Homo sapiens: one gene and its partners. The protein of the gene in region 3 binds, or shares a complex with, the protein of the main gene of each other region. Each region holds a gene or a part of one and is shown on either strand. Other genes may lie near its edges. The genes, in order: MRAS, CDCA2, PPP1CC and MKI67.

Evidence for each region.
Region 1: the proteins of PPP1CC (region 3) and MRAS are in contact, whole or in part, in a cryo-EM structure (PDB 7SD0), measured with the Homo sapiens proteins. Residues at the interface, in NP_002701.1 of Homo sapiens: Pro178, Asp179, Gln181, Gln185, Arg188, Ile189, Met190, Thr193, Asp194, Pro196, Gln198, Leu201, Trp216; in NP_001078518.1 of Homo sapiens: Ala5, Ile31, Gln35, Lys36, Ile37, Val39, Asp41, Glu47, Asp48, Ser49, Leu51, Lys52, His53.
Region 2: the proteins of PPP1CC (region 3) and CDCA2 are in contact, whole or in part, in a crystal structure (PDB 5INB), measured with the Homo sapiens proteins. Residues at the interface, in NP_002701.1 of Homo sapiens: Arg20, Gly21, Ser22, Pro24, Lys60, Tyr70, Asp71, Leu73, Arg74, Glu77, Tyr78, Asp166, Lys168, Ile169, Asp242, Leu243, Tyr255, Phe257, Arg261, Pro270, Asn271, Ser284, Asp286, Glu287, Thr288, Leu289, Met290, Cys291, Ser292, Phe293; in NP_689775.2 of Homo sapiens: Lys391, Arg392, Val393, Thr394, Phe395, Gly396, Asp398, Leu399, Ser400, Pro401, Glu402, Val403, Phe404, Asp405, Glu406, Ser407, Leu408, Pro409, Ala410, Asn411, Pro413, Leu414, Gly417, Gly418, Thr419, Pro420, Val421, Cys422.
Region 4: the proteins of PPP1CC (region 3) and MKI67 are in contact, whole or in part, in a crystal structure (PDB 5J28), measured with the Homo sapiens proteins. Residues at the interface, in NP_002701.1 of Homo sapiens: Val19, Arg20, Gly21, Ser22, Lys23, Pro24, Lys60, Tyr70, Asp71, Leu73, Arg74, Glu77, Tyr78, Lys168, Ile169, Asp242, Leu243, Tyr255, Phe257, Arg261, Pro270, Asn271, Ser284, Asp286, Thr288, Leu289, Met290, Cys291, Ser292, Phe293; in NP_002408.3 of Homo sapiens: Arg504, Arg505, Val506, Ser507, Phe508, Gly509, His511, Leu512, Arg513, Pro514, Glu515, Leu516, Phe517, Asp518, Glu519, Asn520, Leu521, Pro522, Pro523, Asn524, Pro526, Leu527, Gly530, Glu531, Ala532, Pro533, Lys535.

Annotation. Positions count from the first base shown.
Region 1 is NC_000003.12:138,343,594-138,351,596, reverse strand, and holds the start of MRAS (ras-related protein M-Ras isoform 1 precursor), read right to left. Parts: upstream 3,019-8,003; 5' UTR 2,830-3,018; exon of another isoform or gene 2,565-2,829; intron 2,386-2,564; exon of another isoform or gene 2,218-2,385; intron 1,914-2,217; exon of another isoform or gene 1-1,913. UniProt on the Homo sapiens protein: Signal transducer in the Ras-MAPK signaling pathway that regulates cell proliferation and survival. Core component of the SHOC2-MRAS-PP1c (SMP) holophosphatase complex that regulates the MAPK pathway activation.
Region 2 is NC_000008.11:25,462,223-25,469,242, reverse strand, and holds part of CDCA2 (cell division cycle-associated protein 2), read right to left. Parts: intron 3,069-7,020; coding exon 2,918-3,068; intron 1,027-2,917; coding exon 830-1,026; intron 1-829. UniProt on the Homo sapiens protein: Regulator of chromosome structure during mitosis required for condensin-depleted chromosomes to retain their compact architecture through anaphase.
Region 3 is NC_000012.12:110,739,891-110,746,774, reverse strand, and holds the start of PPP1CC (serine/threonine-protein phosphatase PP1-gamma catalytic subunit), read left to right. Parts: upstream 1-3,883; 5' UTR 3,884-4,067; coding exon 4,068-4,122; intron 4,123-6,884. UniProt on the Homo sapiens protein: Protein phosphatase that associates with over 200 regulatory proteins to form highly specific holoenzymes which dephosphorylate hundreds of biological targets.
Region 4 is NC_000010.11:128,123,420-128,130,700, forward strand, and holds the start of MKI67 (proliferation marker protein Ki-67), read right to left. Parts: upstream 3,005-7,281; 5' UTR 2,680-3,004; intron 2,338-2,679; 5' UTR 2,249-2,337; coding exon 2,157-2,248; intron 1-2,156. UniProt on the Homo sapiens protein: Protein that associates with the surface of mitotic chromosomes and acts both as a chromosome repellent during early mitosis and chromosome attractant during late mitosis.

The DNA of each region.
Region 1 (8,003 bases), on a different chromosome or scaffold from region 3:
TCAGTACTACAGGGCTCAGAGGCATGATCTAAGACTTAGGAGGGCTGACAGGGACTCAGAGTCCAGCAAGAAAATTCCTCTTAAAGCTTGAATTCTCTGCTGAGTCCCTAGACAATGGGTACCTGCCAGGTGTCCCAGGTCTCAGGGAACTCCTCCAGCTCCTTTTTTACCTGTCTCCAGATAAAGGTGACTGTACCTTCTATGCCTGCCCAGGGCCTGGCAGGTACAGAGCCTCTGGAACTCAATGCACATCCTCTGGACACTTAAGAACATTCCAGCATTGCACAAGAATGCATTCCCATTCAGTTCACATGAGTATGCTTGTACAAACTACACAATGCTCATGAGCAGGTATGTTTTTCAATTGCTTTCAGGGAGACACACTCTGTTTGGGGGCATTTCATTGGCAGAACAGATTACAATGGTTAAATCTGATGTGAAATATATTATGGAAGCCACATTTCCCTGAGAACTCACTAGATCCAGGAGGCTGGTCAACATGTGATTCTGACTGAGGTTAGGACCAGTCATCCCAGGAGCCTAATTTATCAGAGGCCAATAGTCATTCCTGGTTCCAGGTGATCACTAGAGCTTAGGAACCAAACCAACCCCAAGGGTAACTGACTTGTCACTTTTTTTTTTTTTTTTTTTTTTGAGACAGGGTCTTGCTCTGTCACCCAAGCTGGAGTGCAGTGGCGTGATCATGGCTCACTCCAACCTCTGCCTTCTGGGCTTAAGCAATCCTCCCACCTCAGCCTCCCAAGTAGCTAAGACTACAGGTGCATGCCACCAGGCCCAGCTAATTTTTGTAGAGACGGAGTTTCACCATGTTGCCCTGGCTGGACTTGTCACTTTATAAGTAGCTCAGACGAACTGAGTATGAAATACCAGTGGCTAGAGCTAATAATAACATAAAAGTTAAACCTGTCATAAAGTGTCTTATGTAGGTGAAAACAGAGGTGGAAATTAGCAACTGTCTTATGGAGGAGCGAAGCTGACAACGCTGGAGACAATCGCTTGCTTCACCAAAGGGCCTTGACTACCGCCTACCCCAGTCCCGCCCCCAGCTTTAGGAAATGCCGAGGTCACATCTAGGGGGTCAGTTTCCACCAGAGCACGAGGCTTGCCCAACACCTCCCTCCCCAGAGGCTGGCAGACCTCAAAAACCCCAGAGCATGAAAGCCCCATGCCTCCCACCCCGGCAGAAAAAGGACAAACTACACCATAAACTACAGAGAGAAGCTAACTGGCTGCTGGGCAGTGTGAACAGACCTAAGGGTGAAAACCATTGCCCGAAACATTTTCAGCCCCACTCAGCAGGGACATGTGATTTACAGGAAATTAGGAGGTTTACAAAATGTTAGCAGCTCAAGTTTCTTCCCCGGGAAAAGAAGCAGGAGAAGCTCTAAGAACCGTATCCGAGAAAGTGCTTTGTTCACTGCTAAGCTTCTGACACGAGTCAGTTATTAATACCCACAGCTCACTGCCTCACACTTCAACCCACCAGTGAATGTCTATAGTGAATAATTATAAAACAATATATTACAAAACTCTAACACAGGCTGCACCAGAGCCTTCCGAAGCCCAGGACAGCCACGTGGCCAAAAGCATGGACTTCAGATATGATCTTGGGCAAGCTGTTGGCTCTTTTTCACCCCAGTTCCTCCATCCTTTACAATAAACAAAATCCTTCTGGAGGTGTCTTGTCAAGAGGTGTCTTGTCAAATGATGAGCAAATCCACTTCAAGTGCCTGGTCTTTGGAAGCCCTGTTGGTTGCTGTTATTACAGTGGAGTTTCAGAGCTCTTAAAGTCATATCTCCATCTTACTTCTGCTGCCAGACAAACCTCTGGAGGCCACGATTCCGAGCCTTGTCAGCCACCCTCTCTGGTCAGGTCCAGGACAGAGTGAGTCCTAGAGGAGCAAGGCCAGGGAGGTTCCACACCATCAGGGGCCATTGGGGAGTAGGGGCAATGGCAGAGCTCTATGATCAAGGCCCCAGTGGCCTTGATGGACTCTGTCCACCTCTCCAGACTCCACTTTGCCCCAGGCCAGAACAGACCTCAGCTCTAGCCAGAGTCTAACTGGGTGTCCAGTGTATACGCTGCGGCCAGCCAGACATTAACTCCTCTAGGCGGCCTTCTCTCACCTCCCACTCTGCAGTAGGGACCCCTAGGGGCTCCCACAACCCCTGGGCTTACCGAATCTCAGCACTTACCACACTGGCTTGTCACTTTGTGCTCTTGTCTTCCCCGCAGGGCAGGACTGGCACCGTGTCTGATGCCTCAGCCAGATCAGTTCAATGCATGAGCCCAGGCCCTAGTTGTGACCACAGCTCCAGCTCCCCAAACCTCCGGGGGCAGTGAAGGGTTGTTTATGAAGCAGGCTGCGTTTTATTATTCAGATGAATTTGTCAACTCCCTGGCGGATCCCTCCCCTCGTTAACGCCATCTTAAGGCGGGGGGGTAAAGAGTCCCCCACCCACCCACCCATCCCCCGCCGCCCCGTCCTGCCGCCCATCTATCCACCGGGTTCTCGCCCAGGCAGCCAAGGAACTGTAATTACCATGAAAGGGTCTCTCTGAGCGGCGCGCAGGCCCTCCCCACTGGGGTCTTGGTCGTGGCCGATTTCACGAACGCACACCGTTACGCGGGAGCCCGCGATGGGGGCAAAACGCCACGCACAGCCGGTCCCAGGGCGCACCCCGCAAGCGGAGAGCGCGGCCGAGCCCGGAGGGCGGCCACACCTCCCGCCCCGGAACAAAGCGACGGCCGGGGCGAGAGGCGGCGCGGCCGGGCCCCCTCCCCTCCAAGGCCGCCCGACCACTCACCGCGCGCTCCAGCCCCGGCTCGGCTACGGCACTCAGGCCGCCCCCTCCTAGCCTGCGCCGGTGAGGAGGCAGCGTCGCGCCCGCCGGGCCCCGCGGCCGCCGGACTGACGGCTCCCCGCCAGCCGGCCACTCCGGTCCGTCCCCGCCCCGGCGCCTCCTTAAAGCGACCGCGCCGCCAGCGTGCGCCCCGAGCGCCTAGCGCGCCGCGCATTCCTTATATTGCCACAGCGCCTGCTAAAAATAGAGCGCCGCTGCGGGCGCGCCAGTGGGGAGCCCGGGCCGGGTGCCTCGACCCTGTCGCCCCCGCGTGCACCCCGGCCCCCAGGACGCGCGCCTACGAAGTCCAGCCCACCCGCGCCGAGTCCCCTGGGCCCGGCAGGGCGCGCTAGAGCGCCAGGGGCTGGGGTCGGCGCCGCAGCCTCTCCCGCGGCCCAGCACTTACCCGGGTCAGATCCGTGGTGCCGGGGAGCTGGCTTTAAGGTGGACGCCGAGTGGGAATTCGACTCGGCCTCTTTAAGAGCCTCTGCGCTCCAACCTTTAAATCTCCGCTCCGGCCGGGCCAACTTCTGAGCCTAGGGACGCCTCCCCAGTCCTAGGCGAACCTCCGCCGCCACCTTAGCTGCATTCCCTTCGAATCCTGAGACGTCTTTCTTCCAGATCATGCCCCAGCGTCTCTCCCCGCAGGCCTTCTGGGTGCACCGTTCCAGGGCCCAAACTTCGTTGGGATGGATGCGACGGGGACAGGCGACACTCGCGCACCATTTCATTGTTTCAGTTCCGCTAACTCCTCTCCAGCGGCGTCATTTTCCCCCCGTTAAAAAAATAAAGATATAATTCAACACCATAAAATTCCACCTTTTGAAGTGTACAATTCAAGCCGGGCGCGGTGGCTCACGCCTGTAATCCTAACACTTTGGGAGGCCGAGGCGGGTGAATCGCCTGAGGTCAGGAGTTCAAGACCAGCCTAGGCAACATGGTGAAACCCCGTCTCTACTAAAAATACAAAAGTCAACCCGGCATGGCGGCACGTGCCTGTGATCTCATCTACTCGGGAGGCTGAGGCAGGAGAATCACGTGAACCCGGGAGGCAGAGGTTGTAGTGAGCCGAGATTGCGCTACTGCACTCTAGCCTGGGCAACAGAGTGAGACGCTGTCTCAAAAAAAAAAAAGTGTACGATTCAGTGGTGTTTAGCATATTCACAAAGTTTTGCAACCATCACCATGAGCTAATTCCAGAACATTTTCACCACTTCCCACTCCCCTCCCCTGCCCCTCACAAAAAGAACTACCCGTTAGCAGTCACTCCTCATTCACCCCTTTCCTCCGCCTCTGGGAACCACTAATCTACTTTCAATCTCTATGGATTTCCCTATTCAGGACATTTTCTATAAACGGAATCATACAACATGTGGCCTTTTGTGACTATGACTAGCTTCTTTCAGTAACCAATGTTTAATGATCTATTCATGTTGTAACATGTAGCAGTACTTCATTCCTTTTCATGACTGAGTAATATTTCACTGTATGTCTATACGTTTTGTTTATCCCTGCATCACTTGATGGATATTTAGTTTTCTGCTTTGGGGCTACTGTGAATAAAGCTGCTATGAATATTCATGTACAAGTCTTTGTATGAACATATGCTTTTCTTTCTCTTGGGTATATACCTAAGAGTGGAATTCCTGGATCATATGTTAACTCCATGTTTAACTTTTGGGGGAACTGCCAAACTGTTTTCCAAAGCAGCTGCACCATTTTACATTCCCACCAACAACATATGAGGGTTCCAATATCTCCACATCTTTGCAAACACTTGTAATTGTGTGTCTTTTTTTATTCTAGTCATCCTATTGGGGGCGAAATGGCATTTCATTGTGGTTTTGATTGTCAGCATCATTTCTGAGGACATTCTTTTTCTGGGTGGACCTCAATGACTTAGAACCAGCTTTACATGTCCAGGGAACCCACTCCCTTCTCAGGTTTGCCCCAGGCCTAAGGGAGCCTCACAGTGCTGCTGGCTCTGCCTGCCATGCTGAGGCTCTTAATCCCATGCAGGCTTCCTTTGGCATCCCAGCCACCCATGCAGCCATTTGGTGGGAGCTGCTGTGCACCCCCTGTGCCTCCACTCCCACCTGCTGCTCCAAAGACCCTGTAGACCCCAAGTGTCCCCCAGGAAGGGGACAGCAGGTTGGGTGCCATCAAGAGTATCTCTCCTTGGCAGTAGGGAGTAAAAGACCTGGTTGGGGAGAAGGCTTGAGGGACAGTAGTTTACCTCGACTGTCTAGGTTTGCCCTGGAACCTGACTCCCTCAACCCCCTCTATTTACCACAGAACTTGGGAAGGCGGGCAGGGATCTGTACATCCTGGTGGCCTGTCAGCCCCTCGTGGGCTCCCCATGTAAGAGATGTCCTCTCTTGGGCCCTGACTGGCACAAGACCCTGACCATGCCCTCAGCTTGAGCTGAGCCAACATCTATGCAAGAGTCAAAGAGATGTCTTTATACTGCTTTTATACACATATCTGTAATAATACCTCTTCTCAGAAATGGAACTTAAACAGCTAATAGTCATACCCAGGTACCTGGGATTCTCCTTTTTTTTTTTTTTTTTTTTTTTTTTTTTTGAGACAGAGTCTCGCTCTGTCACCCAGGCTATAATGCAGTCGCATGATCATAGCATCATAGCTCACTGCAGCCTCGACCTCCCGGACTCAAGACATCTTCTTACCTCAGCATCCTGAGTAGCTGGGACTATAGGTGTGCACCACCATGCCTGGCTACTTCTTGTACTTTTTGTAGAGATGTTCCCGAGGCTGATCTCGAACTCCTGGGACTCAAGCAATCCACCTATCTGGGTCTCCCAAAGTGCTGGGATTACAAGTGTGAGACACTGTGCTTGACCTACCTAAGATTGCCTAATGGTGAGAGTAAATCTTGCAGATTGCGATTGCGGATGGGCTGTTCCATTTGAGCTGCCTCCTCTGCTCTTTGAACCTTGAAATACAAGTTGTGGCTCAGTTGCTGGCAAATGGGGGCTTAGAGAACAGAGCCACTGAGCAGAAAAGCTTCATTCATCCAGTAAACACTGCCAGAGCATCTACTGAGTACCGGGCACTGGGGCAGAGACCTGCCTTCAAGCAAGCTGAGTGCCAACTGAGGAGCAAGTGGTGTGGAACAGAGAAGCACAGGGACTGTGGAAGACCAGAGGAAGGGCACCTAATCCAATATGGCGAGGAGGCAAGTGCCAAGGGAAGGACTTCTGTGAGAGCTGATGACTGAGCCACATCTGGAAGGACAAATAACAATTAGCTAGGGCCGGGTGTGGTGGCTCATGCCTGTAATCCCAGCACTTTGAGAGGCCAAGGCAGGCAGATCACAAGGTCAGGAGTTCAAGACCAACCTGGCCAATATGGTGAAACCCCGTCTCTACTAAAAAAAAAACAAAAATTAGCCAGGTGTGGTGGCGGGTGCCTGTAGTCCCAGCTACTAGAGAGGCTGAGGCAGGAGAATTGCTTGAACCCGGGAGGCGAAAGTTGCAGTGAGCTGAGATCCTGCCACTGCACTCCAGCCTGGGGGACAGAGTGAAACTCCATCTCAAAAAACAAAAATTAGCTAGGCTGAGAAGGGAAGGAGAAAACCTTATATGCTGAAGGATGATTGAGCAGAAGTCTTTCCAAAGTCTCTGGCAGATGTGCCTGGCTGATCAGGTGTGTTTGAGGCATGGCAGAAGGCCAGACACCTAGCCAAAAACCCAGGCAAGGCTCAGGCCCAAATTTAATCCACAGAGGTCCAAGGTCAGACACAGGGCCAGGAGCCAATTTCTGGCTAAAGTCAGAGCCACTGAACTGACCCAGAGCAGGACAAAACAAACATACTTCATCCACTGCAACATGTCCTACACTTGCCTCTCTGCCCTGAGGCTTGCTGAGTGCCATGCCTCAGAGCCAATCCAAACTGGTGCCTAGTTCAGCAGCAAACGTGGGGGCTTGGGACCTTGGGGCTGGAAGTCAACCAGGTCATTGTGGCCCAGCCTTCCTCTAGAACTCCCAGCTTCAGGCCAGACGCGGTGGCTCACATCTGTAATCCCAGCACTTTGGGAGGCCGAGTCAGGTGGATCACCTCAGGTCAGGAGTTTGAGACCAGCCTGACCAACATGGTGAAACCCCACCTCTACTAAAAACACAAAATTAGCCAAACATGGTGGCGCATGCCTGTAATGCCATCTACTTGGGAGGCTGAGGCAGGAGAATCACTTGAACCCAGAAGGTGGAGGTTGCAGTGGGCCGAGATCGCACCATTGCACTCCAGCCTGGGCAACAAGGGTGAAACTCTGTCTCAAAAACAAACAAACAAACAAACAAACAAAAAACCTCCCAACTTCAGTGTATTCCCTAAGGGTAAAAGAAGCCGTGAGTTTCTGAGCACTCACAGCGTGCCTGACACCAGACATAGTGATGGGTCTGACCCTGTGCTGTAGGTCATCTGAGCCCTGTCTTAGATATAAGGAGACTGTGAGCCCAATCCTACACAGCTGGTAGACTAAGAATCAGGCTCTTCTGACCACAAAGCCTATACTCTTCTCCCATGCCAAGTGGCCTTGATGGACAAGTGTGTGTTTGGTGTTGGCGGAGCAGGGATAAGGTGAATAGGAGACGAGTGCTCATTCTAGTCACTGGGCCTGCGGCTGGAATTAGATCTTTTGGTGACCCTGAAGCACCAACCATGGGCTAGCAAAAGAACCTTGCCCCCACGACCTATGCTTATTCATTCCTCAAGCTGACCCTTCTTCTGTGCCAAGTACAAGGCCTTTCTTCCCCTGGGCTGCCCATGATGTAATGCCAAAAACTTATACTCTGCTTTCAGAGTTTTCATGGACTTTACCAATCCAGGCCCAATCACTTCTCATCTTTACTCCTCCCTGCTACCCTGCTGTGGCTTGAATGTCTCCTCCAAAACTCACGTTGAAATTAATTGCTAGAGGTGGGGCCTTTCACAGCTGATTAATGCCATTGCTGTGGGAATGGGTTAGTATTACAGGGAGTGGGTTCCTAATAGAAAAGACAAGTTTGGTCCAATTTTCTCTCTGTCTCATGCTAGCTTCTGCCTGCCTTCTGCCATGGGAGGGCCCTCACCAGATGCCAGTGCCATGCTCTTCAACTCCCCAGCCTCCAGAACT
Region 2 (7,020 bases), on a different chromosome or scaffold from region 3:
GCCAGTCCACATAAAACGAATAGGACGAGCACTGGATCTAAGTGACAGAGAAAGTGCAGAAAGGGTTCCAACTGTAACGGTGTTAGGTGTCTCCTCTCACAAAGGCCATGAGGAGCTACTGTGTCAAACCAGAACTAGAAGCATGAAGTAAGAAAAGTCCGTCACGAGAGACCAGCTCTCCATTCACGCGTGCGCGCAGGTCAACTGATCTTCAGTAGTATTATTTTTCTAATATCGCCTTTTGATCGTCTTGACAGGGTTTAGGTAGTTATAAGCCACAAAAATCCCTAGAGCTACTTGAAAGAAGTGAGCAAAGGAGAAATTGCTGAATGGCACCCTGATTTCCATCAGAAGGAAAGCAGTCAGGGGCAGGTATAAGTGCAAGACTCCCAAGCCTGTGGAGTACACCCCACACAGAATCTCCACCTGATCCACCAGCTCCACTGAAGCCATCTGCTTATACCCTGCTCCCCAGTAGAAAAAATACTGCCTAAGGGCAAGACTGTAACTTCCTCCCTTCTTGGAGCATCACCCTCTAGAATACCTCATACGTAGAAGACCCCAGGGCTTACTCTCTTTGTAAGGTTAGTAGTCAAAAGTGAGATCATTATCCAAACTGTTTCTAATAAGTGATAAATACCAGCAACCATAAAATTAACAGGTAGGAAACACACACACACACACGCACACACACACACACACACACACACCCCAGGAACCACAGGGCAGAACAAGGTACTAAAATTGAAGAACGGCACTGACAGCCTTAAAACTGCCTATGCAGAAAACCAACAACTTCATTTTCCTATGCGTAAAGTAAGTGAATTACCTCAGAAAGATCTACAGAAGTTTCAACTGCACATGCTCTGTCTGTATCAATATTGAATATCTGGAGACCAATTACTTTTCCTTCAGCATCCGTCAGATTTTCATCAGAGTCTCTCTGATAGGATATTCTCCGACGTTTGGAGGACAACACTGCAGGGAACCCAGACTGCTGGCAAGCGCTGAGACCTTCCTTTCTGGCTATAAACACAAAATAAAAACAAAACGACACAGGCATAAATGTTTTCATATATATTATATATATTTTTTTTCTTTTCTTTTTTTTTTTTTTTTTTTTTGAGACGGAGTTTCACTCTTGTCGCCCAGGCTTGAGTACAATGGTGCGATTTCAGCTCACTGCAACCTCCACCTTCTGGGCTCAAGTGATACTCCTGCCTCAGCCTCTCAAATAGCTGAGATTACAGGCTCATGCCACCATGCCTGGCTAATCTTCGTATATTTAGTAGAGATGGGGTTTCACCACGTTGGTCAGGCTGGTCTGAACTCCTGACCTCAGGTGATCCACCCACCTCAGCCTCCCAAAGTGCTGGGATTACAGGCATGAGCCACCACGCCCGGCTATTGTGCATCGTAATTTTAGTAAAATCTAGTGCTTAAGTCTAAATTATCAATGAAAAGAAAAATCTACCACACTTTTTTATTCCAAAAAAAATTAAATCTAACTGAAAGGAATGAAAACATGTCTATTGAAAAGATAATACATTCATATTATTAGAATTAAGTTTTTTCAGGCCTTAAAAGGTACAAAGATATACTAAAATACTTTTGCATGTCTAATATGGTACCTCACGCTTTTTAAATGATGACACCTGTTATTTTGAAAGATGTGGTTATGCTCTAATACTCTGTATGACTTTATGAAAAAGACAACCACAACGTACCTGTTTTTTTCTAGCTAAAAAAAAGGAACTGTCTGCAGAATTATAATGATGTAAATAAATTTTAAAACCCAGGAAAAAACTGAAACAATAAGTGAGTCACAAACTACAAATATAAATCGGTACATCTGAATGGGTCACGCACTCTAGAGGTAGATGAGGGGGACTTGTCTTGGGCTAACAGAGCAATCCTCATGGGAGGTGCTGAAATGCACTTAAAGATGGTTCAAGAATTCAAAACAGAATCATTTGAAACCTTAGTGTGTAAAGTACCAGAGAATGGTTATAATGATTACAGTAAGACCAAGATTTTGTCACATTCTGGTATCTGAAATGCTTCGTGATTGGGGGGGAAAAAAAAAAGACTGAAAAAACAACCAAATGAATTACAATCTAAGAGTTAAAGAATATAGCAGATTATCAGATTGGATATATTTGTGTGTGTGTGTGTGTTTTTTTTTTTTTTTTTTTTTTTTTGAAAGGGACTCTCACTTCTTCGCCCAGGCTGGAGTGCAATAGCACGATCTGGGATCACTGCAACCTCCACCTCCCAGGTTCAAGTGATTCTCCTGCCTCAGCCTCCCCAGTAGCTGGAGTTACAGGCATGTGTCACCACGCCTGGCTAATTTTGTATTTTTAGTAGAGACAGGGTTTCACCATGTTGGCCAGGCTGGTCTTGAACTCCTGACCTCAAGTGATCCTCCCGTCTCAGCCTCCCAAAGTGCTGGAATTACAGGCATGAGCCACCGCGCCTGGCTGAATATATTTGTTTTTAACATCAGGGTTGGGTGTTTGGTACTCATATAAAATTTATATGAATTTATTTCATTTACTAAATGCTTGCCGAGCTTAATAATAATCCTGTAAAAATCAAGATTTGTAAACTCAAATTTGCCACAAGCTCTATGGTAAAGGTGAAATGAGCTAATTATCTCTGGCATTTTAAAACTTAAAATTTAATTGCAACCATGCGGAAATGTAGGATTAGGAATGCCTGATAACAGGTTTTTTTTTCTAAGAGAAACCAGAAATCCTTATTTTTGTGTGAAATGTCCCAAATTTTTAATGTTAGTCTCACTTTATAAATATACCTGTGTTCTGAAAAGATTGGCTTCACACTAAATCATTTCATAACTCAGAAGCTTGTCTTTATAAATATTGAAGTCAAAACTGAACGAATTATTTCTACTCACTCAAGTCTGTCATCTCGGACTCTTTTCCTGCCTCTGAGAATTCCAGACAGCCGGTCATTTTCTCGTTTTCCTTTATGGAGTGAAAAGCTGACTGGAAGGCTGATATTCGTTCTCTTAAAGTGTTAACATTTCGATACAGTGCAGGGCTGCCCTGTGAAAGTGCAAAATATACAAGGAGTATTATAATCAATTCATACTTTCTATATTCTAGGCCTACAGCCATTGAATCCAAAATTAAATACAGTACACATATGCTTTTTGAAGATCAGCGGTAAGGAGTTAGTGTGGCAGAGCTTCTTCACCCTGGAATTACCCATTTTCAGTTTGAATAAGGAAGTTTAACACAAAAATGTTGAGAGGCCAGCCTAAGATTATATGGAAGGTGCCAAAAAAACATTGCGCTCTGGGATGGTGCAACAAAAAAGGGACAGGAGGAACCTGTCTATTTGCAATTTTTACCAAATGTTGTGCTGGATGTATCCATAGGAAGCCATCTGCATGGTGCTTGTGTCACAGGTAAGTCTCAGCATACCTCCTTCAGTCCAAGCTGTTTCTACTCAGCACGGGTCTACACATGCCCTCCAGCCCAGGGGCCAGAACGAGACACAGAAGTTCCATACATGCTCAGATACTACACTTGCACTGCTCTCCTTTTTGGCTCTTCCCAGCTAATTTTCCTGATTGTATGGGACCTGGAGGATATTTCCTTCTTAGGGTTGAAAGCCAGCCATTCTCTTAAAATACAAAGTTTGATGGTATAAGCACAGAAGCTCTCTGGAAACCCCGTTAACAGGGTTCCAACCAAAGACTGATAAAATGAAATTTATATTAGCAGGGATAGAAGTGCCAGTTAAAGACAAGTAATATAAAAATTGAGAGTTCCCTTTACATAAAAATTAAATTACAAATGAAGTTCTCTATCTAGATTTTTTTTTATTACTTGGACTACTAACATTTCCACTGATATGAAGTTTGTGGCAATGTTTAAAAATTATACCAATGGGCAAAAAGTGAAGTAAAAATTACCTCCGTTTAAGATATCATACAGAGTAGGCTGGGCACAGTGGCTCATGCATGTAATCCCAGCATTTTGGGAGGCCAAGGTGGGAGGATCACTTGAGGTCAGGAGTTTGAGACCAGCCTGGCTAACATGGTGAAACCATGTCTCTACGAAAAACACAAAAATTAACCAGGCGTGGTGGTGCATGCCTGTAATCCCAGCTATGTGGGAGGCTGAGGTGGGAGAATCGCTTGAACCTGGGAGGTAGAGGTTGCAATGGGCCGAGATCATGCCACTGTACTTCAGGCTGCGTAACAGAGCAAGGCTTGGTCTCAGAAAAAATATATATATATCACAGGGAGAAAAAGCAGTTCATATCGTGAAGCCATGTTTGATGGTGATCTGTTCACACATTTGATTCTCTTCCCAGTTAAATATAAAGCAAATTCTCTATTACATAATGAGAACATTTTACATTGAAATATCCTTGATGACACAAACGTTCACGACATAAACAGCAATAATATTCAAAAAAGGCTTATGTCAATTCATCTAACAGAACGACAGGGAAAAGATGATCTCAAATTCATACAATTTACTTTGAATGTGCTTTTTTTGCACACATATTTGAACATGGTAGGGGCAGATTTAATATCCTAGGAACATGCAGCACTTTGAAATGCTGCTTAAAAAAATTTTAAGTTTCTCTAGTCAAAATTGTTTTTTCTCTATTTTCTACTGGAGAAGGAGAACAATGTTTACATACAAAGCAAATGAAACATTCAAAATGTACTGCTTTTTTGATGTTTTTGTTTTAGGAATTGTGTCGGTCAGTCAACAACCTTCCTTCCATGCACCACAAACTGTTTGAGGGGCTCAGGATCTAGGGAAAATTACTTTATTTTTATTTGAGACAAGGTCTTGCTCTATCAGCCAGGCTGGAGTGCAGTGGCACAATCACAGCTCACTGCAGCCTCGATATCTTGGGCTCAAACGATCCTCCAACTTCAGCCTCTCAAATAGCTTGGACTACAGGCATGTGCCACCACACCCAGATAATTTTTAAAATTTTTCTGTAGAGATGGAGTTTTGTCATGTTGCCCAGGCTGGTCTCAAACTCCTGGCTTCGAACGATCCTCCCTCCTTTGCTTCTCAAAGTTCTGGGATTACAGTGTGAGCCACCATACCCAGCCAGGGAAATTACCGTTTAGAGTGAAATTCTGAAAACATATAAACGTAGTTACAGGTAAAAGAGGTGCTATTGAGAAGAAATATCAGGAATGTGGCTGAGTCCCTAAAAGTGCTGGCTTAGCTAGAATCAGGACAGACCTCTATCTTTAGTAAAATCTGAGTTGAAGCCAAAACAATGAGAAAGAGGTCTAAGGGAAGATGTCACAGGAGGGAGGTACTCTCCAAGAACAAGGGCCAAGGCCTTGAGTGGAAACAGGATGGGGCAGAAAAGCCAGTGTGCCCTGTGAGTGGAAGGAGATGGGGAGAGACTAGAGTGGGCGTACGAAGGCATCAGGAAGGGGTGTAGGTTTAATTCAAGGGATCGCAGGAAGCCATGGGAAGATTCTGAGCAGCCGGGTGAATGATTCGATTTCTACTTTAAATGAATGCCTCTCCTTGACTGCTCTGTGGGATAGCCAATGGATTAGGGAGAACGTAGGAGGCTGCTGCCAGCACAACACACGTACAACATTAAGGTCCTTTTTTTTTTTAATCAGTAGAAGGAGTACACTTTAAATTCATGATACAAAGTCTATAGTAAATGTATAAACCAGGAACAGTCATTCATTATGACTATCAAGTATTATGTATTGTAGGTAACCTTTTGTGCTAGATTTTAATACAAGTGGCAGCACCGTAGAACTGTTTGCACCAGCCTCACCACAAATGCATGAGCAATGCATTGTTTTATGATGTTATATGAGCTACATCACCAGGCCTTAGAAATTTTTCGGCTCCATTATTATGAGACCACCATTGTATATTTAGTCCATCACTGAACAAAATGTCATTATGTAGCACAAGACTGTATCTGACTTTTTAGGGGGATGTATAAAAATTTGAAAAAACAGCTAAATATATCCCCATCAGCAGATAAATAATCTACTCCTCTCCACAAGGTTGTCCCAAATACATTTTGTCCAGGAGACCCTTGCCCCTATACATCAACACACAGTAGTCATGAAAAAATCAGTAACTTAGAGATAAGCTCTTAAAAAGGTAGTAGTGCCTCACCTCATAGAAAAGTAGATCTTAACTAGAAAAAAAAATTGAGAAATAAAATAAAAAGCTCCTCTAGAAAGCTATTTCTATCCAGGGTCTCATAACTCTAAAAATACCCTCGTTTGGGTTGAGCACTGTGGCACACACCTGTAACCCCAGCACTTTGATAGGGATTGCTTAGGGTCAGGAGTTCAAAATAAGCCTGGGCAACATAGTGAGGCCCCATCTCTACAAAAAAAAATTTTTATAATTAGCCCATTGCTGTGGCACATGCCTATAGTTCCAGCTACTTGGAAAGCTAAGGTGGGAGGATTCCTTGAGCCCAGGAGTTCATTGCTGCGGTGGGCTATGATTGCACCAGTGCATTCCAGCCTGGGCAACTGAGATCCTGTCTCTAAAACAAAGCAAACAAAGAAAAATCACCCATGGTCAACATCATCATTTAGGCTAACTGCATTTTTTTTTTTTTTGAGACAGTCTCACTCTGTCGCCCAGACTGGAACATAGTGGCATGATCTTGACTCAATGCAACCTCTGCCTCCCAGGTTCAAGCAATTCTCGTGCCTCAGCCTCCAAGTAGCTGGAATTTCGGGAACCTGCCACCACACCCAGCTAATTTTCGTATTTTTAGTAGAGATGGGGTTTCACCATGTTGGCCAGGCTGGTCTCGAACTCCTGACCTCAAATGATCTGCCTGCCTCAGCCTCCCAGAGTACTGGGATTATAGGCGTGAGCCACCGCGCCCGGCCGCTAACTGCATGTTCTCTAAAACACAGAGAAAATCTCCCTCCAGATTTGAAACAGAGCAGATGCACTAGAAGGTGTAAAGAAAGCACAAAAGCTTCATTAACGGAATTCACGACAGAACTTA
Region 3 (6,884 bases):
ATTCCTCCAACACTGGAAGATTGTTCCTGCCTCAGGGCCTTTGCACTTGGTGGTCCTTCTGTTGGGAATATTCTTCCCCTATGCCAATCCTTCCCATGACTTTCTCTTTTTCATCCTTCACATCTTGACTCAAATGTCAAATCCTCAGAGTCCTCCTATGTGGTCACATGACCCTTTCTAATTTTCTCACGAAATCGCCACTCTCTGAAATTATCCTCCTCAAATGGTTTATCTGTTCCCCTCTGTGTCTTTCTCTAGACTGGGAGCTCCATGAGGACAGGGACTAAGTCTGGCTTATTCACTGCTATGTCCCCAGCTTCTCACACAGTGCCTGACACCCAGTACGGCCTCGACAAACGTTGCCCAAAAGAATACAAGTGTCTGCCGGTAACACTACAGGATGCAGAGATAGAACTGTGGACGTTGTCAAAGAGCATTCACCCGTATTTTTTCCCCATGGTTCCCTCCTTTGTATAAAACCCCTGGAATATCCAGGGAGGTCTAGATTTGCAGGCAAACTTCATCACCAACACTCAACACTTCTTTCTTTTCTTTTTTTTTTTTTTTTGAGACGGAGTCTCATTCTGTCGCCCAGGCTGGAGTGCAGTGGCACGGTCTCAGCTCACTGCAACCTCCGCCTCCTGGGCTTAAGCGATTCTCATGCCTCAGCTTCTGGAGTAGCTGGGATTACAGGCACCCACCAGCACGCCCAGCTACTTTTTGTATTTTTAGTACAGATGGTGTTTCACTATATTGTCCAGGCTGGTCTCGAACTCCTGGCCTCAAATGATCCACCCACCTCGGCCTCCGAAAGTGCGTGAGCCACTGCGCCCAGCCACCAACACTTCTTCCAATCATCTCACCACAATCCTAATGCTCATTAAATTGGAAGGACGGAGAGAATAAAGTTCATCCCCAGCCTTCTAGAACAGAGTTCCAAATTGCTGGCCTAGGGCCAAATGTAACCCACAGATATGCTTTGTCTGCCTCACACTGTTTTAGAAGATTTTGAGTTCATGACCGACTTTTTAAAATTGGAACATTTAACATAAAAATCCATATGTTCAAGTTTTACCAAAAACTCAGAGGATCTGGCCACAAGTGGCCCCAGGGGACTGGAGCTGAGAAGTGGCCGCCCCCTTGGATGAAACGTGGGCTCAGTTTGCTCCAGTCCCTACCCAGAGGCTGAATTCTTTCGTATTATCAGCCAGGTCCCTTTAGGCACTGGGATCCCCCCTCAAAGCCTAAGTATCCTCAGAGACACTATTGAGTTTCCAATATTTGGCCACAGCCACTCTCTTCTAATCATCAGCTCCCCATCATCTTCAGCAGCCCCTAAGAAAGCTCTGTAGAGCCAGGAAAGACAGTTTGAAAAGTGCACTTTAATCCACTCTCCTCATTTGACAGATAGGCAAACTGAGGCCTAGAGAGGGGAAGGGACATTCCATTTATTAGGCTGTATCCTTTCTGACAGGATGCTTATATCAACTCATCTTTGGAAAGCCACTGGTGCTGATAATGGCAGAAAAAGGCGAATAGGGAATCAGTGCTTTCCTCCACCGGCTATTTGCTGGTTCCTGGGAGCTGTGAGGGCCCACCCTGGTGAGCTATGCCATGCTCAGGCTCAGAGCCAGCTAATCACTTAGGCATGTGCCAGCAGAACTGAACTCTGGAGGGGAGTTGCCCAGCAGAAAACAACCTGGGGACAGAGGCTCTCCCCATGTCCCAGCTCAGTCTGAAGTCCTCCTCCAGCCCTGATGATGTTGCAAGAGGTTAACACACCTGCCATTTTGCATGAGGAAAATTATGGCACTCGTATTGTGGGCAGAGACACAATTCAGTCATTCCACTGGGTTCCAAATTGATATGTGCCCAGTATGTGCCAGGGATGTGAACACTGCTGGGGGTTCACTGCCGGGTTTTACTGAATATGAACGAGGGCTGTGGTTTCAGGCTGTCCTGAGTTCCAGCCCTGACTCTGTAACTTCCTGGCTGTGTGACCTTCAGCAACCACCCTAGCCTCTCTGTGCCTCACTTTCTTCATCTGTAAATGGGGATGATAGGAATAGGACATAATTCCTAGGATTATCTTGGGGATTCAATGAGATCATTTTTTGGCACATACTAAGAAATGAACACAGTAGCATTTTTTTTCTTGTTTATTTTTCTCCACTGCACTTATCAGAAGCTGATATTTTTATTTGCATCTTTGCTTACCATCTGACTGACTAAATGACTCTCCATAGAAAAAAGCCTTGTCTGTCTTGATCACCCCTGCTTCCCTGTCTAGAACAATGCCTGGCACAGAGTGGGTACTCCATAAATATTTGTCTGCTGAATGAATTGCTGTCTTTCATATTTCTACCCTAAATGCCATTCCGATGATGCACCCTGCCCTGGAGTAGCCCAAAGTCCTGTGGACTCCAGCAAGAGCCCCCCCTGACCTCCATAGCCAGATGTTCACAGCAGCGCTGGGCACCAACTCCGAATGTCACCAACTGGGCTCATTGCCTTGGCCTGACAAATGGCACTTATGTGACTTCTGGTGGACAGAGCTGTAGCAGGGGAAAGTGAGTTAGTGCCTGAGGAAAGTGGATCGATAGGCTGAGTTCTGAAACTCAAGGGCCCTGCACCAGTAGCGAGGGGGCCCAAGTAAGGGGACATGGAGCCCGCACCCTGAGGACATTGCTTTGGAAGAGGATGCCTGGGTGGTGCAATTACCTCGTGGCATACTGAGATGGGGATTCGTGCATCCTGCACGCCTTGGGAAACAAAATGAATTTCTCGGAGAGAGGGGGCTTTGCAAAATGTAAAGCGCTGCAGGAAGCAACGTACATGGAAAGGTCAGGAAAGAGAGCCGATCTGTTTGCTGAGTGTGGGCTGTACTTCCAAACCCAGCCAAAGTCGACGCGCAGCCCCTGGAGGTGGCACAGTTTGGGGGCCCCTTGGATAGGAGTGCCCTCGGGGAGGCTGGGAAGCCAGAGAGGAATGGGCCAAAGTTTCTTCGGGTGTCTGCAGAACCCAGGACCGCCCGCGCAGCTTGCATCTTCTCTTCCCGCCCCCGGCCTGCACGCGTGAAATCTGCAAATTCCCCTTTTAACTGCTGCACGCGCTCGTTCAACTTTGCCCTGGCTAGAATCGGGATAACCGTCCCGATGATTACATAACTTTCCGAGTTCAGGGAAGATAAATCCAAGGGACAGAAATGATAAAATTTTCTTTGAGTATGGATTTTTTACCCCTAAAGTTACAGAAGTGCACAAAAAATATATATACAAATACCCATATACCCACCACTCACAATGAGTTAACTGTTACATTTTGACTTATCTGAAAGAGGGTTTTTTCTTTTTAGTTACCAAATAAACCTTTCTCTTGTCCCAAGTTCCAGTATATCTGAATCCAAAATAAGTCAACCTTCTTTTCTTTATTATTCTTTTCCATCCTCACCCCAGATTTATCTTAAAGGGTAAGTTCCAGGACCCCCGAAATCCCTCGGTGAGCTCCCACCTGTCCAGGTCTGCAAACATCTAGACTCAATGCACAAGATCCGGCGATGGCCGCAACCGGCGGTGTGCACAGCTGCATTTCCTCCCCCAGCCCCAACTCCCGCGTGCAACTTTGCAACTCTCGCTCGGGCCCGGCATTGGGGGCGGGCCTATTTACTCGGCCCGTTTGGCGGAAGGATCCCATGCGGGGACGCGGTTGCGCTCAGCCATCTGCGCCCCGCCCAGCGCCCGGGCCCCGCCCCCTCCAGCGCCCGGGCCCCGCCCCCTCCCGCGCCCCCTATGGCCCATAAAGAAGTCCCGGCCGGGCCGCTGCACTCCCCGCGCGCATCCGTGCGCCGCCCGAGGCTGTCTAAGGAGTCGGCGGCCATTTTGTTCTTCTCGTGGTTCCAGTGGGGAGAGAAGGAGGAAGTAGGGAGCGGGGTGGCAGGGGGGGGACCCGCCGCGGCTGCTGCCACCGCCGCCACCACCGCCTCTGCTCGTGGCGTGGGAAAGGAGGTGTGAGTCCCGGGCGCGAGCCGGCGGCGGCGCCGCTGCGGGAGGGTCGGCGGTGGGAAGGCGATGGCGGATTTAGATAAACTCAACATCGACAGCATTATCCAACGGCTGCTGGAAGGTAAGGGGGGCGGCGGGCGGCTGAAGGGGGAGGCGGGCCTGAGGGCGGCAGGCGGCCCCGGGGGCTCGAGGGAGGGGAGTTGGGAGGCCGGTTGGGCTTGCAGCACCGTGGGGAGTGAGCTCCTCGAGTTGGCCCACGGGCCGGGGACTGCAGCCGGAGGGAGGCCAGCCCGGGATTCCCAACTTGTCGCCAGCTGCGGACCCTCCAGGCTCCGCTCATTCATTGCACGAGGATGCAGGCTTCCTCCCGGCCGTGGAATTTGAAAACTCCGCTCCCCACCCCCACGTTTCCCGCCCCTACCCGTTTGCCCCCGCGCACTGGACGGGTCTTTGGAGCGATGGTTGGGGATCCCAGTCCAGCCTCCTGGACGACGTGTGCCGTGCTGTGCGAGATGGACTTTTCGGTGCTCGTCCTCTCGGAAGGCAGTTTGATGAGGGCATGAGTTCCGCCGGGTTTGGGGGCTCTTTTCCTGCTTGCTTTTATTTTTATTTTTCGTGGTTCTGGGGTCTTGGGGGGCCCATTTCTTGTTACTTGGTAACAAGCGTTCATGTCTCAAGAGGTGTGAGAACCTGTCTTCGCCTGCCCTCCAAATCCTTTTAAGTTGTTCTAATCTTGGAGAGGTCTCCGCGCTCTTTTCCTGAGCGTGCATCTGAAGAGGAAGCCAACGAGGCTGACGCTATCATTATCTTTCCAATGTGCCAGGCTCTGTCTTAAGCACTTTGCGTCCATGAATTATTACTGTAATCATAACTGACGCTTCTAAAGCGCTTACTGTGTGTCAGGCATTCTTTGAGCACTTAAGACAGATTTCATTTAATTCTCCCACCCATTGCAAGATATTTGCAATTTTTTTTGTTTTTGTTATTTTACAGAAGAAACTGAGATGAAGTCACTTAACCAAGGTCACACAGTTAGTGACAGTTGGATTTCAAATCCACATAGCCGGGAGCTAGAACCCTCTACAGACAACACTGTCACCTTATGTAGGAAGGAAGGTGGCCAGTGGTTAAGTAAAGGTTAATAGAAAGCTTTAAATTTCGGCTCATCTAAGACTTGTGAGGTGCCTGGCAATTGATTCATGTTGATGTGGGAGAGGGGCGAGGTTCAGCTTTTAAAGACGGAAGCTGAAATGAGCTGCTTTCAGATTCAAGGGCATGTCAACGGATGCTAACATCTTATCCAAGACTTTGTAAGAATTCAGTCATATCCCCTAACTTGGACACTTCATAATGGGAACTTGGCAGTTTCAACTGCTTTTTGCCTTTATACAGTCCTAAAATATTGTTGGACTATAAATGCTGTGAGTGGTGGAGTCGAGGGCATGAACAGTTGGACAGCTCTGGTGTTAGAATTTACAGATCTTTTAAAGTAAGTTATTAAAATGAAGCTCCTGAAAATATCTCGTCCTTTTCTTAATCTGTGCATTCTTTCCTTTTATGCTGTCTTTAAAAAAAAAACAACAAAAAAAACACTAAATGTCATTAAGGACCCCTGAAATGCTCTTGAAATGTTATTGCAGGTGAAAACCTTGTATTGTAGGTGAAAACCTTGTCATTCTTTTAATGCCAGGTATTTATATAAGAACCATACTTTTTCATACTAGTTAATATAGTTCTTTAATTTATTCGAGGCAGCAGTTGGTCAGAAACTGATTAAAATAGTTTGCTGTAAGAAAGGAACTTTTTGTTAAATATTTTCTTTCTAAATTTTAAAATTCTGCTTATCTCTGCAGGGATATGTGTGGCTTTATTTCTCTGAGGAAACAGGAAAAGTTGGAATTTGCATGGATTAGAAACATTAGAATTTTAAGATCATCTAAGGCTTGCTAATTTAAGTTCTGGTTTGCCCATAACTGCCTCTATTCATAAACAGCTTTTGTTAATTTTGATCTTTAAAATTGTAATAAGTACTTTGCCTGGTAAGTAATGATACATCTAAAATGAGATCATTGTTTCTTAATAGTTCCTCTTGTTATGTGGCACTTGAAAACCAGGTTTTCTTATATTTCATTTTTTGCTGAAATTAATAAAGCAGTGCATTTTAATGCCTTGGGAATAGGCTAACTGCAAAGTATACTTAAATTTCTTTTTTTCTCGTGGGTGTTAAATTGGCAGAGAAACAGTTGAAGATGATCCATTGAGGATATGTAGATATCTAAGTTAAATGATGTTGGTAATAAATTCTGTTTTACAATTTTTTATTTAAAAAAATTAAATTTAATAATTTAAAATAGAAATGAGAGTCTCACTGTGTTGCCCAGGCTGTTCTCAAACTCCTGGTTTCAAGCAGTCCTCGCACCTCGTCCTCCCCAGGTGCTGGGGTTATAGTCATGAGCCACCGTGCCCGGCCTAAATTTTATTCTTTTCATAATGCCCCCAAAACCTTTTTTTTCCCTAAATAAGATGTAAGTATATCTGAAAGTAGAGGGAATATGACTTGTGACTTTGGCCAGATTTTTTTACGTGTTTAGAATTGATCTTTTAAGCTTGCGAGCAGTATAACCTAGTTGAGAAGTAGCTGAGTAATAGTACTAAAAAGCTAACTGAAAAGTGAAGTCTTAAGAAAAACAGCATGTTGGTTTAGATCTTAGTCACTAACCTTTGCAGTTCTTTTCTTCTCTGAACTCTGAGTATTTCTGTAAGCGAGGCATCACCTCTGCAACCCACCATGGATGCTTTTATCCAAGCTCTGCCTTGCTGATGATAAAACTTAAGGTTGTTAACTCCTTAGTATAACTGATGTTAGTTATTTAAATAACTACA
Region 4 (7,281 bases), on a different chromosome or scaffold from region 3:
CGAATTACCTTTTATATGAAAAGCTATACTTAAAAGACACAAAGGAATACTTACATCAATTTTGGATAATGACTATTTTTAATACTCTGTGCTTTTTCAAAAACGTTTGTTTGTAATGTTAAATATGTTTAGAGGTTTAATCATCCCCAAATGTGCTTATTTGATGCTAGCACTTCTGTGCATCAGTTTCTTCATATACAATAAAGAAATTACATTAGAACCTACATCATGTGATGTTCAATTAAATGGTTGTACATGTCACTAATTTGCCTAGCACATAGTAAATGCTCATTATGGGTAAGCTTTTCATTGTTGTTTTAAAACTACACTGAATTTACTGACAGATTCAAGTCTCTAAACAATAAAAATACTAATTTGCAAGCGACACAAAAAAAAAATCTAAATTCAACTTGTTTTTCCACAGAAAGCTAACACCATGGCAAAGTAGCAGAAGAGACAATTCCTAAACCTATACAAACTAATAATCAGAAGAGTTTGTTAGTAGGTTCTTGGAGTCTTCAGTGTTCCTGTTCTAGCCTGTGATCTTAAAAATTTGAATAAACTATGCAATGGCCTGTCTGTTCTCCATCTGAACCTTTGGAGTCTAAGAATCTCTCTTCCTACCCAGGTCATGTGACCAAACACTTAGGAATTATTTCTAAATTATAAAATCTTGCATGAAGATATATTCAAGGAGTACTGTATAAAAAAGCAAAAGGACTGCCACTGGAGATGAAATGTTTATATTTTTCCTTTTCAAGAGAAAGGTATCTATGGAAAGTGAAAAGCTTCCTTAACCCCAATAAAATAATTTGATTTTAAGGTAACAGGACATCAGAGCAAAGGAAAGACTATCCCTTACAACTGAGAATTTGTTTGGCAGGAGGACGACTATAGATGGGTGTTTCTGAGCTTTGGCACTGTTGACATCTTGGGCCAGATGCTTCTGTATTGTGGGGGCTGCCCTGAGCCTGGTAGGATGCCCACCCTGACCTCTCCTCCGCGATGACAGCGCATGCCCCTGTCCTATATTGTGACATGGAAATTCAAATGAATCCTGGAAGGTTAGATGACCCTCCTGTGAGAACCACTGTTCTCAAGAGATTGCAAATCCATGGCTCCAGCCCATGTTTCTACTGACCCTTGCCAGAATGCTAGGTATTGATCACACCCCCTATGCCAGACACCATCCCTGGCCCTACACACGTGATTAGTAACAAGACAGTCTTTGCCTTTGGGGAGCTCAGCCTAGTGGGAGACAAACCCACAACTCACCCCTGAAGCTGTGGGGTTGGAAATACAAGTTTTCATGCAAGGCTTCCTCAGAGGTGACATTTCACCTGATGCCTGAATGATGGAAATCACACAAGCTTGAGGAAGGGGAGAACTTTCCCATTGTAAACTTCCAAGTGTGTAAGAAGTACCAAGGTGAACAAAGGCTTGGAATGCCTTAGGCGGGAGGAACAAGGTAGGGGATGGGGTTGGGAGGACAGGGTGAGGCCGGGATGGGGTTGGGAGGACAGGGTGAGGCCTGAATCCCGTGTGGTCTGGGAAATGACCACACGGGAAATGACCCCCCTTCTCAGGCCTCTAGTGGGACACATGTCAGAGGCTGATGGGGCACTGTCAGCAACTATACCTGTTATACAGGGACAGGGTTATTACCACCACCAAACAGGACAGCAATATAAGAGGAAACGTTCTCGAATTCCAGGCAGGAAGACTTTCTGTCCCATTTTCCTATTGCCACAAGGAGCCAAGAGACAAGTGTATGGCTTCCTTCCTTCATTCTCTGTGTCCCCAGTGGCCAGGGATGCCCACTGTGGAGGCACCCGGGGGCGCACAGTGTCTTCAGACGCCTGCCTGCAGCCAGTGACATATGAAGATCATCTACATCTTTCTTTACCGCAACATTAGCAAATCGATTTTTTTAATTGGCTTGATTTTTAAAACCACTTAAACATACAAACTAGCATCAAATTTATACTTACAAAACAAAAAAACACAACTATGTCAACTTAGTAACGAATGGGAGAAGCACCAAGGAAAAGTGACGGCAGGACCCAATCCTAGAGCGCGTTTCTGGACTTTATTCTGTGACTAAGGTATTTTCCTCTTTCTCAGCTAAAACGTCCGCGCGCGCCCGCGGGGCTCACCTTCCAAACAAGCAGGTGCTGAGGCTCAGGGGAAAGTGGGGACCGTCGACCCCGCTCCTTTTGATAGTAACCAGGCGTCTCGTGGGCCACATTTTCTAAACAGTAAGTTGAGTATAATCCGTAGGGGAAGGCCAGGTATAATCCGTAGGGGAAGGCCAGAAGCAAATTTACAACTCTTCCACTGCAAAAGAGGTGCGAGTTACTCTGATAGCAAAGGAGCTAAGAAGGGCCCCGTGCCCAATTCACCTATCCCCGGCCACAGAAGCGCACACCGCAGCTAGCTAGCGGGGACCCCAGGACGATCCGACCGCAGCCCCCGGCGCCCCAAAGTCCGGCAGCTGGGGTGTTGTCGCCAGCGCCTGCGCCTCCTGGGAGCTTCCACCGAGACGCCCTCGCCAGAGCCCAGGAGGAGTCGGGCCCAGGCCGCGCGTCTGTCCCCTGCCCGTCCCCGCAGAGCTCGGGGGGTCCCCGCGGCTCAGCCCTCGACCCCGGACAGCTCCCAGGAGTCCCGGCCGCAGCTCACCTGGGACGATCCGGCCCGCAAGGCCACTTGTCGAACCACCGCTCGTCAAGTCGCACCCAAAGTCCGCCGCAGGAGGAGCCGGCGCCGCGCTCACCTCCGCCCGGTAAGCTGCGCCCGCCACGCTCCGCACACACCGGGCCGCAGCCCGCGGGGTCGCGTTCGCTGCACCCCGGCCTGCAGTCCCCGCTGCTCCCGCCGCCGCCTCTGACGGGGACCCGGTGGCCCTACAGGCTACGTCCCCGGGCGCCCGGCTCTAGCGGCTCCCACCGAGTCGAGTCCTCCCGCCCGCCCGCCCGCCCGCAGCGTCAGCCCTCCACTTCCTTCTTCCAGCCCGGCGCGCCCGCCCAATTCAAACGAAAACGAAGATTCAAATTCTGGCGCTAAGCGCTGCGATTGAACGGGAAAGCGCGGCATGGGACCAATAGGAAGGGAGCGCAGGGCGTGGGCGGGGAGGGGGCGGGGAAACCGGGCTCGCGGGGCGGGGCTGGCGTGTCCGCGGGCGAGCCACTCACGCATCCGGAGGAAAATACCTGGGTGCATCCCCGGCGAGGGCGGCTGGCGGAGGGCAGAGGTGGAACACGCTCCCACCGAGATAACCCGTCCTGCTATCCTTTTCTTAAAGGACCAAACATCTGGGACACTATAACATTACTCATTGCCAGAAGATTTAAAACTGCTAAAAATTAAAAACAGGCGGGACGCGGTGGCTCACGCCGGTAATCCCCGCACTTTGGGAAGCTGAAGCAGGAAGATCCCTTGAGCCCGGGAGTTCAGAACCAGCCTGGGCCACCTGGAGAGAACCCATCTCTACAAAAAATTCGCCAGGCGTGGTGGCGCCCCTGTAGTTCTAGCTACTGGGACAGCTGAGGTGGGAGGATCGCTTGAGCCGGGGCGGTCGAGGCTGCAGTGAGCTGAGATCGCGCCACTGCACTCCAGCCTGGGCGACAGAGCAAAGCCCTGTCTCAAAAAAAAAAAAAAAAAAAAAAAAAAAATCGAAACCTTCCTCTTCAGTGCATACATCTTACCAAACACAAAAACAACCAATTATATAAAGTAGTTTGGTGTGTCTTTTCCTGCTATACGTGTATTCTCTTTTTCAAAAGCACAGAAAAAAAGGTCATAACATACACAACACGATTCTATACTTTGTGCTCTCTGCTTTTAAATATCCTGAGGCTATCTCCACTGAACACATTCTCGCTTTTACTCTCTGATGGCTGCAGAGCACTGGGCTTCGGGAAACCATAATTTACTTAATCATTACTATTGCCACATACTTAGGTTTACAATGTTTTGTTATTAGAAAACATTCTTCAATTGAAATGGCTTGTGCATGCCAAGATGGGTGAATCCTAAAATAATTCTACACAGGATTCTATCGGGGTCTGCTTCAGTTGCGCTGGTGGCCATGTGGGCTCAGTAGGCCACCTGGGGTGAAGTGAATGGAGCCTAAACACGCTTTTGGTGACAACGGCCTCTCTGCCCCATCTCACCTCCTCCAGCTCCCCAGCAACCCTTGGAGCTTGGCTCCCTTGATCAGGGAGGCCTCGATGCAGGGGACCCCTGAGGACTTCCTATTCCTTTCAGAGAGTCCATAAGGTCAAAACCATTTATCTAATGACCCTCTGTGTTACTTGCCCTTCTCATTCTCATGCTCCCAAGAGTGTGGGGTGTGGTTCTGCAAATGCAGAAGCAGTGAGGAGACTCCCACTGTCTCCGTTTCAACCAGGTATTACAGAGATTTGCAAAAATGTGAACTAAAGCGCTGTTTTCATTTTGTTGTTTTTTTTCCATAAAAATAAGTTATTGGTGTTAGCATGAAATAGGTGCATCACTATCTTAAAATGAATCAATAAATGAATATTTTTAAATTCCTTAGCCTTAACTTAAAATATATAAATATAGCTAGATATAACCCATCCACATTAACAAAAATTCCTGGTGGTTCTCAATAATTCTTAAGAGTGTAAAGGGACCACAAGATTGAAAAGACTGAGCCCTCTGCTCTAGAGCAACTACAAAGATATCAGCTGCTGATGGAAATAGAGAAACTGGGAAAGCAACATAAAAGCACAGGACAGCAACTCTAAATTGTATGGGCCAAGTCTGACGTAGAAAAATTCAGTGCGGGGATACTATTATATAAACGTTTTAGGGGGCATGAGTTTCCATGTTTTCCCCCATTAAACGATCAAACAAAGCCCACCACTGCATAACCCCATAAAACACAACTTTTCTCATCCTAATTACTGCTTGTTTCCAGAGACAGTTCTTCCACCCTCATGGATGCAGCCTAATTAGAACTAGAAGGTGCTAGGCCAGGCGCAGGGGCTCATGCTTGTAATCCCAGCACTTTGGGAGGCCAAGGTGGGTGGATCATGAGGTCAGGAATTCAAGACCAGACTGACCAATATGGTGAAACCCCATCTCTACTAAAAATACAAAAATTAGTCGGGTGTAGTGGCACACGCCTGTAGTCCCAGCTACTCGGAAGGCTGAGGCAGGAGAATCACTTGAACCCGGGAGGCAGTGGTTGCAGTAAGCCAAGGTCACGCCACTGCGCTTCAGCCTGGGCAACAGAGCGAGACTCCATCAAAAAAAAAAAATAGAAAAGAGAGAGAGACAGAAAGAAAGAACGAAGGAAAGAAAGAAAGAAAAAGAAAGAAAGAAAGAGAGAGAGAAGAAAAAGAGAGGAGAAAAAGAAAGAAAGAGAGAAGAAAAAGGAAGAAAGAAAGAAAAACATTTTGAGTTACTTCTTTGAAACATTTTGAGTTACTTCTTTTCTGTTGTTGCTGTTGTTGTTTTTCTTTTTTGAGATGAAGTCTCACTCTGTCCCCCGGGCTGGAGTGCAGTGGTGCAATCTCTGCTTACTGCAACCTCCGCCTCCCAGGTTCAAGCGATTCTCCTGCCTCAGCCTCCCAAGTAGCTGGGATTACAGGTGTCTGCTGCTAAGCCCAGCTATTTTTTTTTTTTGTATTTTTAGTGGAGATGGGGTTTCACTTTTTTTTTTTTGAGACTGAGTCTCACTCTGTCACCCAGGCTGGAGTGCAGTGGCACAGTCTTGGCTCACTGCAACCTCTGGCTCCTGAGTTCAAGCAATTCTCCTGCCTCGGCCCCCTGAGTAGCTAGGACTACAGGTGTGAGCCACCACGCACAGTTTATATATATATATATATTATGTGTGTGTGTATATATATGTATGTGTGTGTGTGTGTGTGTGTATATATATAGTATACTGTCGCTATATATATGTATATATGTATATATATGTGTGTATATATATAGTATACTGTCTCTATATATAGTATATAGTATGTGTGTATATATATAGTATACTGTATATATAGTAATTATATATAGTATATATACTATATATAACAATTATATATAGAGTATATATACTATATATAATTAGTATATATATTACTATATATATATATATATATATAGTAATTTTAGTAGAATCAGGTTTTCACATGTTGGCCAGCTGGTCTCGAACGCCTGACCTCAAGCAATCCGTCCGCCTCGGCCTCCCAAAGTGCTGGGTTTACAGGCGTGAACCACCGTGCCCAGACTTCTTCCTGGCTTTTAATCTGGTCTCTTGTGGGGAGGTTGCCCACACTTTTCTTCCCAACTTTCTTCTCTGTTACGTAAGTCAGGGACAATGTATAGTTCCTTCCAGACTTCCGTATTCTACTTTCATTGATCTTGGACCTACAAGTCGGTTTTGTAGCTCCATTTTTGGAGTTTTATTTTTTTCATGATCTTCTTTCCATTTTCATCTCCTTTAAATAGTTTCTACTAATATAGGAAAACTACGGATGTATTGTTCTTTATTGGTTATGTTTCTTGTTCTTGGACACAAAGGCATTCCCTAGGGAAATCAGAAGACATCTACAAAATTCCAATAATGATTGAAACAAATCTCAAAATTCAACTAAAAGTAAACTCAAAAAGAAATGCATTTAAAAATATTAGGCTGATTAATTTTTTAAGATGTCAGTAATCTAAGATATCCAATATGATGCTTTGCCAATCTATGAACAAGAAAAGTCTGATTATAACAGCTTACATTATAGCAAAATGCCCCATTACACAGGCATCAAATGAATTTCTTATCACTTAGTCATCTCTGCTAAAACAAAACAAAACTCTTCATGACTGGACTTTCGTCATACTTCTCTCCACACACTAGTAACCTCTCTAACAACTCCAACAATTATGTTGACTGCAGAATACACATTCCCTGTATGTACTGCTCTGATTGTTTTCCTATTTGTACCCAATGCTCCTGATGATAGTGTCTAGAGCAACATAAGACTAAGCTGCCCATCTTTTCACTGAATAATTTTTCACACATTTGAAGATGAACACAACTCATTCACTTCCTGAAATATTCTCGTTAAAATTTTTATTAGCAGTTTTTGCTGTTATTGTTGTTGTTTGTTGTTGTTGAGATGGAGTCTCGCTCTGTTGCCTAGGCTGGAGTGCAATGGGCATGATCTCGGCTCACTGCAACCTCCACCTCCTGGGTTCAAGCAATTCTCCTGCCTCACCCTCCCGAGTCACTGGGACTATAGGCATATGCCACCACGCCCAGCT